Linked DNA regions of Homo sapiens. The protein of the gene in region 2 purifies or fractionates together with the protein of the main gene of each other region. This does not show direct contact. Each region holds a gene or a part of one and is shown on either strand. Other genes may lie near its edges. The genes, in order: ALDH18A1, ANO7 and COPG2.

Region 1 (3,286 bases), on a different chromosome or scaffold from region 2:
AAGCGAGTGCTTATTTCTTTAGGAGGCCCCCATGAAATCTTTCAACTGCAGACTGTCAGGCACCAGGGGCCCTAAGGACAGGAGCTAGAGATGGAGGGAGAGTGGGGAGGGTCCGAGCTGTCAAGTGATCCTGAGGCAACAGGACTGGCAGGGAGGAGCTGGGGGGATGCAGTGAACTAAGGATGTCAGCTGGGGCTATGTGCCACCGCGGGAGCTCGCTCAGGTTGGACCCCACCAACTTCAGACCTTCACTGCACTTTTAGTCTTCAAGCTCTTGGGGCTTAATCTCCTGTTTTCCTTTCCTGTCTCTCCGTCTGAGTCCCTCTGTGGGGACTGCCTATGTTGCTTCCACCAACAAACACTGTTGAGGCAGATGTCTTGTCTCCCCAGACAGCTTCCAGAGAAGAGACCATGCCCACAAGCAGGGCACGAGGGTCACAAGAGAGGAAAAGGAAGGGGGTAACAACAATTAAGGGAGAAAACTTCAATCACGCACAGGCTTTTCATAAAAAACTTTATTTCTCAAAAAAGGGGGAAGAATCCAAAGTATTAAAATAATCCTCTAATTTTTGTTTTGGAGGAAAAGGGTAGGACGACAAAATAATTCATACAAAAATTTCAAGCATCACTGCTGTAGATATTCCTCCAGCTCAGTGGGGAACATCCTGAAACTTGCATCTCCTGCTGCAGCTTGGGTTCCAGCTGCATCACGGGGAACACAGCATCTCCTGGATGCAGGAAGCTGCAAGCATCTGGAATGCTTATTAATTTACCCCACAAATAAATACAAAAGGTCAATCTTCCCAGTGGAAATGATTCCATCGATTTTTGTGACTTTCTGATGAGAATGCTAAAAAGAAGAGTTGCCCCTTTTCTAAAATTCCAAATCTTTCCTTTTTGAAGATGACTACATGTGAAAGAAATAAAATGTGAAAAGATTTGTTAAGGATGACTGGCTCTAGTACCAACTAAATGCCAAGGGGGACTGTAAGTCACTGAGGTGACACAAAGCAGCCATGGGTTTTCCTCGCCTTTTTTATGGGGAAAATGCACCTTTCAATCCTAGAAGATAATTGGACTTGGCAAAGTCCCTATCGGTAGCAACTATTTTCTTACTTTAAAAAAAAAGGGTGAGCTGGGAGCCAGACTGTGCACATCAGCCAAGACTGCTATTGCCAAACGGAGCCCAGAAGCATCCAGGTACACTTTCCAACAGGCAGACCCTACCAGGAACTGGGAGACAAGAGCGGGCTCTCTCCTGAGATAAGACAAGTTTAACGTGAAGACCTTTTGGAAAATTCCCGGGTTTTCCTGGCTCTTTTCAGTTGGTGTTTCTCTGAGGAATAGGGAGGTTCTCATGAAGATATTTTAAACTTCCATGCTCTGAGAAATCTGAGACCACGTGGTCCTTCCCTCGCAGCAGCCACTTAGTAGTAAGCAGTCCCTCAAGTCCTACTGGTCCCCGGGCGTGGATTCTCGATGTACTGATTCCCACTTCAGCTCCTGTGAAAAAGCATGAATAAAAGATGTAGCTTTTCCCAGCCTCTGCTTCCTGTCCATGCCCCAGACCCACCCTGCTGCTTTCCCCTCACTTGGTACCCTCTCTTCCTGCTAACTCCTCATCCATCCTCCCCAGAAGAGCTGAGTCACCCTGTTCCCATAAACATGTTCTTCGATTACTACAAATCATGATACACTCCTTCTCGTGAAACAGTGTGTGGACTCTTCTTCTGTATTTTATCCCCAGTGCATTTTGACAATGCTATTAATACAAGTGCTGTCTCTTTTATCAGTTTAGCATCTGAATTGCATACCATATTTTGACATTTGGGCATGTTTTGAGGGGTACGACAATGTTTACCATGATGGTTTCACCTCCTCAAATACTCTTTAAATCTTAGAAAGAAAGGGACATGTTTGTGGTATCCCCTAGAAGTCTTAGCACAAGGGACTCATTAGACAGTTACTGAATACATCAAAGGGTTACTGTTCATTCCCTTTTCTCTTGCTCCCAGCTCAGACCTAGGGAACGTCAGGGGTTTTCCTGGCCCTGGCTTGGTGTTCTGCACTGTATACAGTGGAGGCAGGGTTCCCTCAATCATCACAACTTTACTGAGCATGTACTATGTACTAGGCACTGTGTTGAGCCCTGGGGATAAAGTGGTGAATAATAGATACAAGGCCCTGTTTTTGTGGCGCTGATATTATAGCAGGCGAGGCAGCCAAAGGACAGGTGAGTAAATAGTCTCCTGTGGTGCTCAAGTGCAGTGATGGGTGCTATGACAGAGGCTGTGTGGTGGAGCTGGGGACACGCTGGGTAGGATGGTCAGGGAAAGCCTCCCTAAGGAAGTGCCTTTTGGTTGGGACCTGAACAGTGAGAAGGAGCTGGCTGGAGAAAACCAGACAGAGGTGCTGCAGGCAGAGAGAAGAGCAAGTACGAGACACAGTAGGGGCGGGATGTGCTTGGGGTAGTGGTTGGCAAGGAGAGTGAAACCAGCAGGATTCAAATTCTGGTTCAATAGCATACAGACCACATGACTTTGGACATACTACCTAACTTTATGTCTCATGCCTCAGTTTCTTCATCTGGAAAATGAGAATTCATCTTGTAGAATGAAGTGAGAGCATGCTTGCGACACATTTAGCACAGTGCTGGGAATGTAGTAAATGCTCAGTAAAATCTGTTACTGTCATTAATGCATTTCACAAGGAATTTAACTCAACCAGCTTTCACTCTGAGCTGGTGTTGGAAGGACAATGAAATGATCTTTTGTTCTTCCTTCATCCTGGATTTTCATTTGAATGCTGGGTGCCCCAGCCCTTAAAAATATGTTGCTATTTCTTTTTCAAGTACATGGAGAGTATAAAGATCAATGCAAGTGATGTGATAATTACATCAAAATCCCAACATAATACAAATGGGGAACTAAAAATAAAGAGTATCATGATTAAGAATAACTGAGTTAAATTCCCTTTCATAACCTTTTAACAATTTGGTGAGAATTATTTCTCCAGGCAGATCATCTACTCAAAAAGTTCAGAAGGATTAAAATGTGTGTCTTTCTGTTTTGTTTTGTTATACAGATAGGGCCTCACTCTCTCCCAGGCTGGAGTACAATGGCATCATCTTAGCTCACTGCAGCCTCGAACTCCTGGGCTCAAGGGATCCTCTTGCCTCAGCCTCCTGAGTAACTGGGACTACAGGCTCACGCCACCACACCTGGATAATTTTTTCATCTCTGTAGAGAGGAGGTCTCGCTGCGTTGCCCAGGCTGGTCTCGAACTC
Region 2 (3,750 bases):
CCATGGCAGGCTGAGGCCACCCTCCACAGGTCTTGGGGAGATGGTGCCCCGCTCATCCTCCCTCCCCTCCTGCCTCCCGACTCCTTTCCTGGTTTCTGGAGCACTTCCCCAGTCCAGCCCTCGTCCAGGGATCCACCTCAGGCGCCTGCAGGCTGAGCTTGGCCAAGCAGAGACCTCTCATGCAGATGCCCTGAGGCCCAGGGCCCCAAGGTCCTGCCGCCCAGGCTCTGCTGGTGCTGACAGGGAACCCGGCCTGCAGGGCCTTCCCGCTGTTCCGAGGCACAACACAGGTCCAAGAACAGGGCCCCTTGGGAGGTGCCAAGCACAGAGGGGCATAGGTATAAGGGAAAGCTGCAGCCAGGATGAGGGTCCGCCTGGAGGGATTTCAACAGGCAGAAGGGGGCACCTGGAACAGCAAGCTGAGCTTGGGGCTCCCCAGTGCAGTTGTGCATGGAGGGCGAGGAGCACGGGTGGTAGGTTCTCAGACACTGCCAGGCACCAAGGAGGAAAGGGGGAGGGGGAGGGAGAGGGGAAGAGGAGGGGCGGGGAGAAAGGATAGGAGGAGAAGGAGGAGGAGAGGGAGAAGTGGGGGGAGGGGGAGAAACAGGAGGAGGGGAGTGGGGAGAAAGGAGGAGAAGGAAGAGGAGAGGGAGAAGTGGGGGGGAGGGGGAGAAACGATAGGAGGAGGGGGAGTGGGGAGAAAGAGGAGGAGGAGGAGGAGTTGGGGGGAGAAATGATAGGAGGAGAGGGAGAGGGGAGAACGGATAGGAGGAGAAGGAGAGGGAGGAGTAGGGGGGAGAAACAATAGGAGGAGAAGGAGGAGAGGGAAGGTGGGGAGAAAGGATAGGAGGAGGGGGAGAAAGGAGGAGGGGGAGGAGGGCTAGGAGGAGAAAGAGGAGGGCTAGGAGGAGAATGAGGACGAGGAGGAGGGCGGAAAGGATGGGAGGAAGGCTAGGACCCCTCCTGTCCTTTTGCAGATGGGGCCCTGAGCATGGGATGTGCCTGAGGTCACCCCTCAGGCATTAGCAGAGCCAGCAGTGTGATCTGGGTCTCCCAATCTCCCCAGCCCCCGGGTGAAACCCTGGCCCACCACTCAGCACATGCTACGTAACCTCAAGGAGCCTCAGTTTCCCCCCACATAAACAGAGCTTACGAGGTCTGCCTGGCAAGGCTTCCAGCAGAGGTGGCACTTGTGGCTGTTCCTGTGGAATCCCACCTCCTCGAGACCCTCCAAGGCAGCAACTATGACAGCTGATGCCAGCCCTGAAATCTCTAAGCAAATAAGGTTCCCAGGAGGACGGCAGCATTTGCATGCGGGTGTGTGAAAGCCCAGCCAAGTGGGCTGCCTCTGTCTGCAGCTCTGAGCCCCACACCCCCTATTTAAACAAAGATAGATCCTGCTCCAGGAGCCGGGAAGCCTTGCCCTGGCCAGCTGTGCTGGGCACCTCCCCTGCCTGCTTCCTGGCCCACTTGCAGGCAAGGTGAGGGCATGCGAATGGCTGCCACTGCCTGGGCGGGGCTCCAAGGGCCACCCCTCCCCACCCTCTGTCCCGCAGTGAGGACGGGACTCTACTGCCGAGACCAGGCTCACGCTGAGAGGTGGGCCATGACCTCCGAGACCTCTTCCGGAAGCCACTGTGCCAGGTGGGGACCCAGCCTAGACGTGTGGGCCACAGGGAGAAGGTGGAGCGTTGGACTCTAGGGAGGCAGGGCGGCACCCCAGCCCACCGGGACTTTCACACACCCTGGCCTGTGGGGAGGCAGTGCCAGGGCCCGCCCTGGTCCCCAAAGCCCCTTGGGGCACGAGGAGGGACACACACTCAGTGCGGCTCTGGACGGGGTACACCCAGCTGGGGTTGGCTTCCTGCCTGCCCAGGGGCTCCCCCATGGAGCAGGTCCCTTCGTTGGGGTGGGGGGCATCCCCATTCTTTCTGCAGAGAGCTCTGAGGAGGGGCCCGCCTGCCCACCACAGAAGGATGGGGGCATGAGGGGCTGCTGGGTGGCCGAAACTCCTCGGGGACTTTCCTCCAGGAACACCCCACAGTCCGTAGTGAGGCTCCCAGCCTGGGGCCGGGGCCGAGTCCTAACACTGAGACCTGGCTCGGGCTTCAGGGTTAGGCAGGTGCAGGCGGCCCAGGCTCAGTCTCTGTCCCTCTGGGCCTCCGCTAATGTGAAGTGAAGGGTAGAACTAGAAGGCTGCCCCTCCGACCTCCTGCGGCGCCTCCATGGTCACACCCTCCGGTCATCGTCGCAGCTCCAAATGCCAGCCCCAGCTCGAACCCTCTCCTTCCAGGGCCACAGATGTCGTGCTCCTGGCCCCGTTTTGCCAGCCCAAGACTAGGAGCCACGGCACCTGTCCTCCCACAGAGAGAGACCCCCGGGGCGAAGGTGCGGGAGGAAGCTGGGACCCCCAAGAGTTGTGAGGCCGGGCTCCATCAGGCCCGCCTTGCTGGGGAGCTCAGGGCCTATGGGTCCTGGCACTGGGTCCTCAGGCCATGAGCGAAGGCAGGCGACTTGAGGGGTTTCCTGTCCCTGGCTCACATGGCTCCACCCTACGGATAAGAGAGGGAGAGGTGTCTGTACTCCAGGCCCACCTTTCTGGGCCTTCTCAGGCTCCACTGAGTACCCAGGCAGAGTGGACGGCATTCAGGGCTGGGGGACACGGGCACTCACTGGATGGACAGACAGACGCCTGCTGTGCCAGGCCTGCCAGACGCTCCCGCCCCGGCACTGGTTTCTTCCTGGAGCTCGTGGCTGGCTAGGGGGTTCTCCATGTGCTCATGGCCAGGAGAGTCTGCCGAGCCAGCCCAGCCCCATTCTACTCCGAGTCGAGTCTGTAAAGTGAGCTCACTGCAGGCAGTGTGGTGGCCCCAGGAACGGGTCTCACCCATCCCCTCTCTGACCCCCATCCCCACCCGGCCTTGCTGGGTGCAGGAGCAGGATGCTGCGGCGACGGGCCCAGGAAGAGGACAGCACCGTCCTGATCGATGTGAGCCCCCCTGAGGCAGAGAAGAGGGGCTCTTACGGGAGCACAGCCCACGCCTCGGAGGTAACAGCACCCAGGAGACTGTGGTGCGACTTGAGAGGTCCTCCCCTGCCTGGGTCTATGCCCCCACCCTGGGCCCAGAGCCTCTGGGGGTGGATGGGCATCACCGTGTTTCTCCTGCATCCCCCGGCAACCCCCAAGCCCTCGCCACCCAGTCCTCAACACACACAGTCAGATCACCGCTCTCCTGGCCTGGCCTGGCTGTGGAGAACCGAGCAGAACCCACTGATGTTCAGACAGGAGCTCCAGGAGGGTAAGGGGGGCCTGGCCAGGCAAAGGCAAGACCAGGGCGGGGCCCTCCCTGTGGTGTCAGTCCCAGTCAGTGCAGGGCCACAGCAGCACCCAGGGCCATCTGTAGGGCTCCACCTTGTCACTAGGAGGCCATGGATGCGCTGTGAGCCTGTGGGGAGAGGCTGGGTCCCGGGCCTTCAAGGCCATGCGGGAGGCCCTGGCCGTGGAGGGCCCTCTTCCTGGTTCTCCTGGGCCACACGTCTGCCCCAGCAGCCTGCGGGTGGACACGGGACCCCTTCCTGCCGCCCCAAGCACAGCTGAGATGAGCCTCCAGGGAGGGCACAGGGCCTCTCACCTCAAGCATCCAGACACTCTCGGTCGCCATGGCCAACTCTGTCCTCAGGGCCCCTTTGGGAGCAGTCCGGCTCCCCTCTGCCCCTGGAGGCCAGCAAGGCAGGCACCCCTGGTCCTGG
Region 3 (3,650 bases), on a different chromosome or scaffold from region 2:
AGCCTACATGTTTCCATCACTCCTCACTCTTATTTACAGAGCTCCTCTTTCCAGCACCATTCCTTAAAATATTAGTTCTCTGTAAGATTTTGACTTCTCAACATCTACATTCCTCTTGGTGATCATTTTCAGAGCTCTGCTAATAGGCTGTGACATTCCAGTCATGTCTCTTTCCTGAACTTGTTTGTCCAAATAACTTAAAGCACTTCAAACTCAACCTGAAATTCAAACTAACCTCACATTCATCATCCACTCAGTTATCAAGATAGAATCTTGTTCTGCTGCCTTACAGCCCCTATCTGTTCTTTAGCAAAGCGCTTTCAATTGTGTCTCCTTAATATTTCTTCATTCTCTTCTATTTTCTTGGTGCTGATTGAGGCTGTCATCCGTTTCAGATCCCTAGCTATCTGACTGCTTCTAGACTCACATATATCCTGCCTATTCTTTACACTCTGCTAAAAAAAAAAGAAAAGGCGGGGGGGACTTTCAAATGTACAAATTTATCTCATATTTAATATCCTTTAATAATAATGTTGAGATTAAACCATACCCTAATTTTGTTTTATTGCCAGTCTCTCCCTTGTCTCTTCTTGCTCTCCAACATGGGTCCTTTGCTCAGCCTTGCCCAACTGTCCAGTAATACACCACACTTTCTTCTCTGGGCAGGGGCCATTCGAACGTGTTATTTTCTCTGCCTCTAATACTCTTATCCTGCCTTTTTCCTCTGGCTAACAGTACTTGGTCTTCAGATTTTAGCTCAAGTAATATGTATTAACTCTTTGTCTTAGTTTTCCACCACCAATTCGGATTTAGTTCCTTTCTGTGTATTCACATAGCATCCTGGATATATTTCTTCCATGGACTTACCTATGATGTCTTGTAATTGTCTCTCTACATACCTATCTTTCCCACTAGAGTGTAGCTCCTTGAGATCAGGGACATGTCTTTTATCTGTCCCAGTACCTAGCACAATTCCTGACAAAAGTTTGGTGAACAATGAATCTTTGTTGAATGAGAGGAATTTTAATAATAGAATTTCTTTTTATGCTTGGGGCTGGTTGTTTGAGATTAGAGCTTAATGACATCAGTGTGATATATAAGGGGTTGTGGTGGGGTGGAGATATAGCTCCTACAGAAAATCTATATGAATCTTTTTCCTCAATTTTTGGAAGATTTTCCTATTCAGAGCTCTCTTGGGCTTGCAGAATTCTATTTATGCTTAACAGTATCAAAGAAATAAGATCAAGAAACACTCAATAAAACAAGGGAGTTTATCTCCACTGAACATGGGGACACTTTTCTAATTTTTTTTCAAATGGTTATTGGTTAACTCTGAGAAACCAATATTTATGTACCATAATTGTATGCTTCATTATAGCTGCTGTGAGTGCTTTGGCTAAATTTGGGGCTCAGAATGAGAGTCTTCTCCCAAGCATCCTTGTACTCTTACAGAGGTAAGTTAAATAATGTCTTTTCTAAAAAAAAATAAGAATTCTATATGGTTAAACAGTGAAATCCTCATTCTACCATAGGGCGGATGCACTCTAAGCCCTAAGAGTAGAGTTATTGGAGCAAGTCAGGGGCAAATGGCAATTCCTTTCTCTTTTTAGTAATTATGTATACCTCCCAATCAATTTGATGTGCTATTGACTGATCACTTCATGAAAGCCCCTAGCCTTGGTTTACACAATAGCCTACATGTTTCCATCACTCCTCACTCTTATTTATAGAGCTTCTCTTCCCAGCCCCATTCCCTAAAATATTAGTTCTCCATAGGGTTTTATTTGCTAGGTACATGTCACATTTGATTTTGGCTTTCTCTCACATGATTTTGAGAAAGTGACTTAAATACATTTGCCTCAATTTGTACAACAGGGGCTTACTTAAAAAAACTGTTAGGTAATTCACTATGCAGAGTTAAAAATAATAGTTTTTCATTGTCTTCATGACTCTATTTGATGAGGAAAAGACTTGCTTTAGCAAACTGTGATTGCATCTTATAATTGAAGCAGATAAATTACAAGCCAAAGGTTGGCTAGTTTACGTAAAACAAATTGTCATTTGAGCAAAAACAGTGGCTGGATTTTGAATTTATCTTTTCAGTATCCTTGGAGAGTATAATACTCCCATTTCCTAATTACAGAGAAGTCTAAGTCTTCAACAGGGTCATGTAGTTACAGATGGAAGAAAAGACTCCAGACTGCTATTTCATGTTCTTGTGCTCCTCGTTATTTTAATGCCTACTTATGTAGTGCTTGTGATTCACAGTAGCAGTATTTCTTTAGTAATTCAGAGCAGTACCCAAGATTTGTGAAGACTTTAGGAGCCACTGTTGGCTATTGTTGAGCACTTTTTTAAAGGTAGTATCAGATGACGACCTGAGCTGTGTCCTTTAGATTTGGTAGTAGAGCTATTGGAAGTCTTTGGGGTACTGTGACATGACTATTCTGTTTCCCCTGGACAGGTGTATGATGGATACTGATGACGAGGTACGAGACAGAGCTACCTTCTATCTGAATGTGCTGCAGCAGAGGCAGATGGCACTAAATGCCACATATATCTTTAATGGTCAGTGAAAGCCAAGGATGTACACTTTTGTTCCTCAAATGGTGTCTTGGAAGCATATTTTATGATTTGCATATGAGCTAACTTCACTAGGCAAATGCTTGGTTTTTGTCTTTGAGTGCACTTCCATTTCTAGAGAAACCTGTGTTTATAGGATATTTTCTAATTTGGTAATGATAATTCCTATGCAGCAATCTATAAGAATATAGATTGGGCCCTTACATTTTTTAGGAACGTTGCTCACTTATTCCTGGTTCTCCTTGAACTCCCTCTTGGATGGGTTTACATTTTTCCCGTTTTCTTATGCTATCATTGTTCCCATATAGCTAAGTTGCTTTCTTTTCTGGGAGGTACATACATTTTGTTGAAAATGTGTATGCTATGCTCCCATGTTTCCTTGAATGAAATAAGTCAGTTTATAAGTTTATAAGGTAATTTCAAGAATATCCTTTATTTTTATATTTAGGTTATAAAGCTTTTGGTTATATTTTTCTCTTCCTTCAGAAAGCTTAGATAAATATTACAAACCTGGGCCTATTTGGATTCGAGGATTGGCAAGAGGTTATAATGCTGAGATTTCTCTATGTTTCACAGGTTTGACGGTCTCTGTACCAGGGATGGAAAAAGCCTTACACCAGTACACGTTGGAGCCTTCAGAAAAACCGTTTGACATGAAATCAATTCCTCTTGCTATGGCTCCTGTCTTTGAACAGAAAGCAGGTTCACTCTATTCATTTTTCTGTGTATAAGTAGTTTTGCAAAACTAAAAAATATTAGCATATTTTCTCTAATACTCATTTAATTGTCACTCTTTTTTTTTTTTTTTTTTTTTGAGATAGAGTCTCACTCCCGTCGCACAGGCTGGAGCACAGTGGCGCGATCTCTAGTCACTGCAACCTCTACCTCCCGGGTTCAAGCGAGTCTCCTTCCTCAGCCTTCCGAGTAGCTGGGATTACAGGCATGCGCCACCACACCTGGCTAATTTTTCTATTTTTAGTAGAGACTGGATTTCACCATGTTGGCCAGGTTGGTCTTGAACTCCTGACCTCAGGTGATCCACCCACCTCGGCCTCCCACAGTGCTAG

What was found.
Region 1: the proteins of ANO7 (region 2) and ALDH18A1 purify together in Homo sapiens (affinity purification with mass spectrometry, with the first as the bait; one large-scale study listed by BioGRID). This does not show direct contact.
Region 3: the proteins of ANO7 (region 2) and COPG2 purify together in Homo sapiens (affinity purification with mass spectrometry, with the first as the bait; one large-scale study listed by BioGRID). This does not show direct contact.

Annotation. Positions count from the first base shown.
Region 1 is NC_000010.11:95,605,441-95,608,726, forward strand, and holds the end of ALDH18A1 (delta-1-pyrroline-5-carboxylate synthase), read right to left. Parts: intron 1,504-3,286; coding exon 1,322-1,503; 3' UTR 501-1,321; downstream 1-500. UniProt on the Homo sapiens protein: Bifunctional enzyme that converts glutamate to glutamate 5-semialdehyde, an intermediate in the biosynthesis of proline, ornithine and arginine.
Region 2 is NC_000002.12:241,187,123-241,190,872, forward strand, and holds the start of ANO7 (anoctamin-7), read left to right. Parts: upstream 1-1,554; 5' UTR 1,555-1,606; coding exon of another isoform or gene 1,607-1,644; intron 1,645-2,934; coding exon of another isoform or gene 2,935-2,941; coding exon 2,942-3,049; intron 3,050-3,073; exon of another isoform or gene 3,074-3,299; intron 3,300-3,750. UniProt on the Homo sapiens protein: Has calcium-dependent phospholipid scramblase activity; scrambles phosphatidylserine, phosphatidylcholine and galactosylceramide. Does not exhibit calcium-activated chloride channel (CaCC) activity. May play a role in cell-cell interactions.
Region 3 is NC_000007.14:130,550,159-130,553,808, reverse strand, and holds part of COPG2 (coatomer subunit gamma-2), read left to right. Parts: intron 1-1,378; coding exon 1,379-1,454; intron 1,455-2,464; coding exon 2,465-2,568; intron 2,569-3,159; coding exon 3,160-3,285; intron 3,286-3,650. UniProt on the Homo sapiens protein: The coatomer is a cytosolic protein complex that binds to dilysine motifs and reversibly associates with Golgi non-clathrin-coated vesicles, which further mediate biosynthetic protein transport from the ER, via the Golgi up to the trans Golgi network.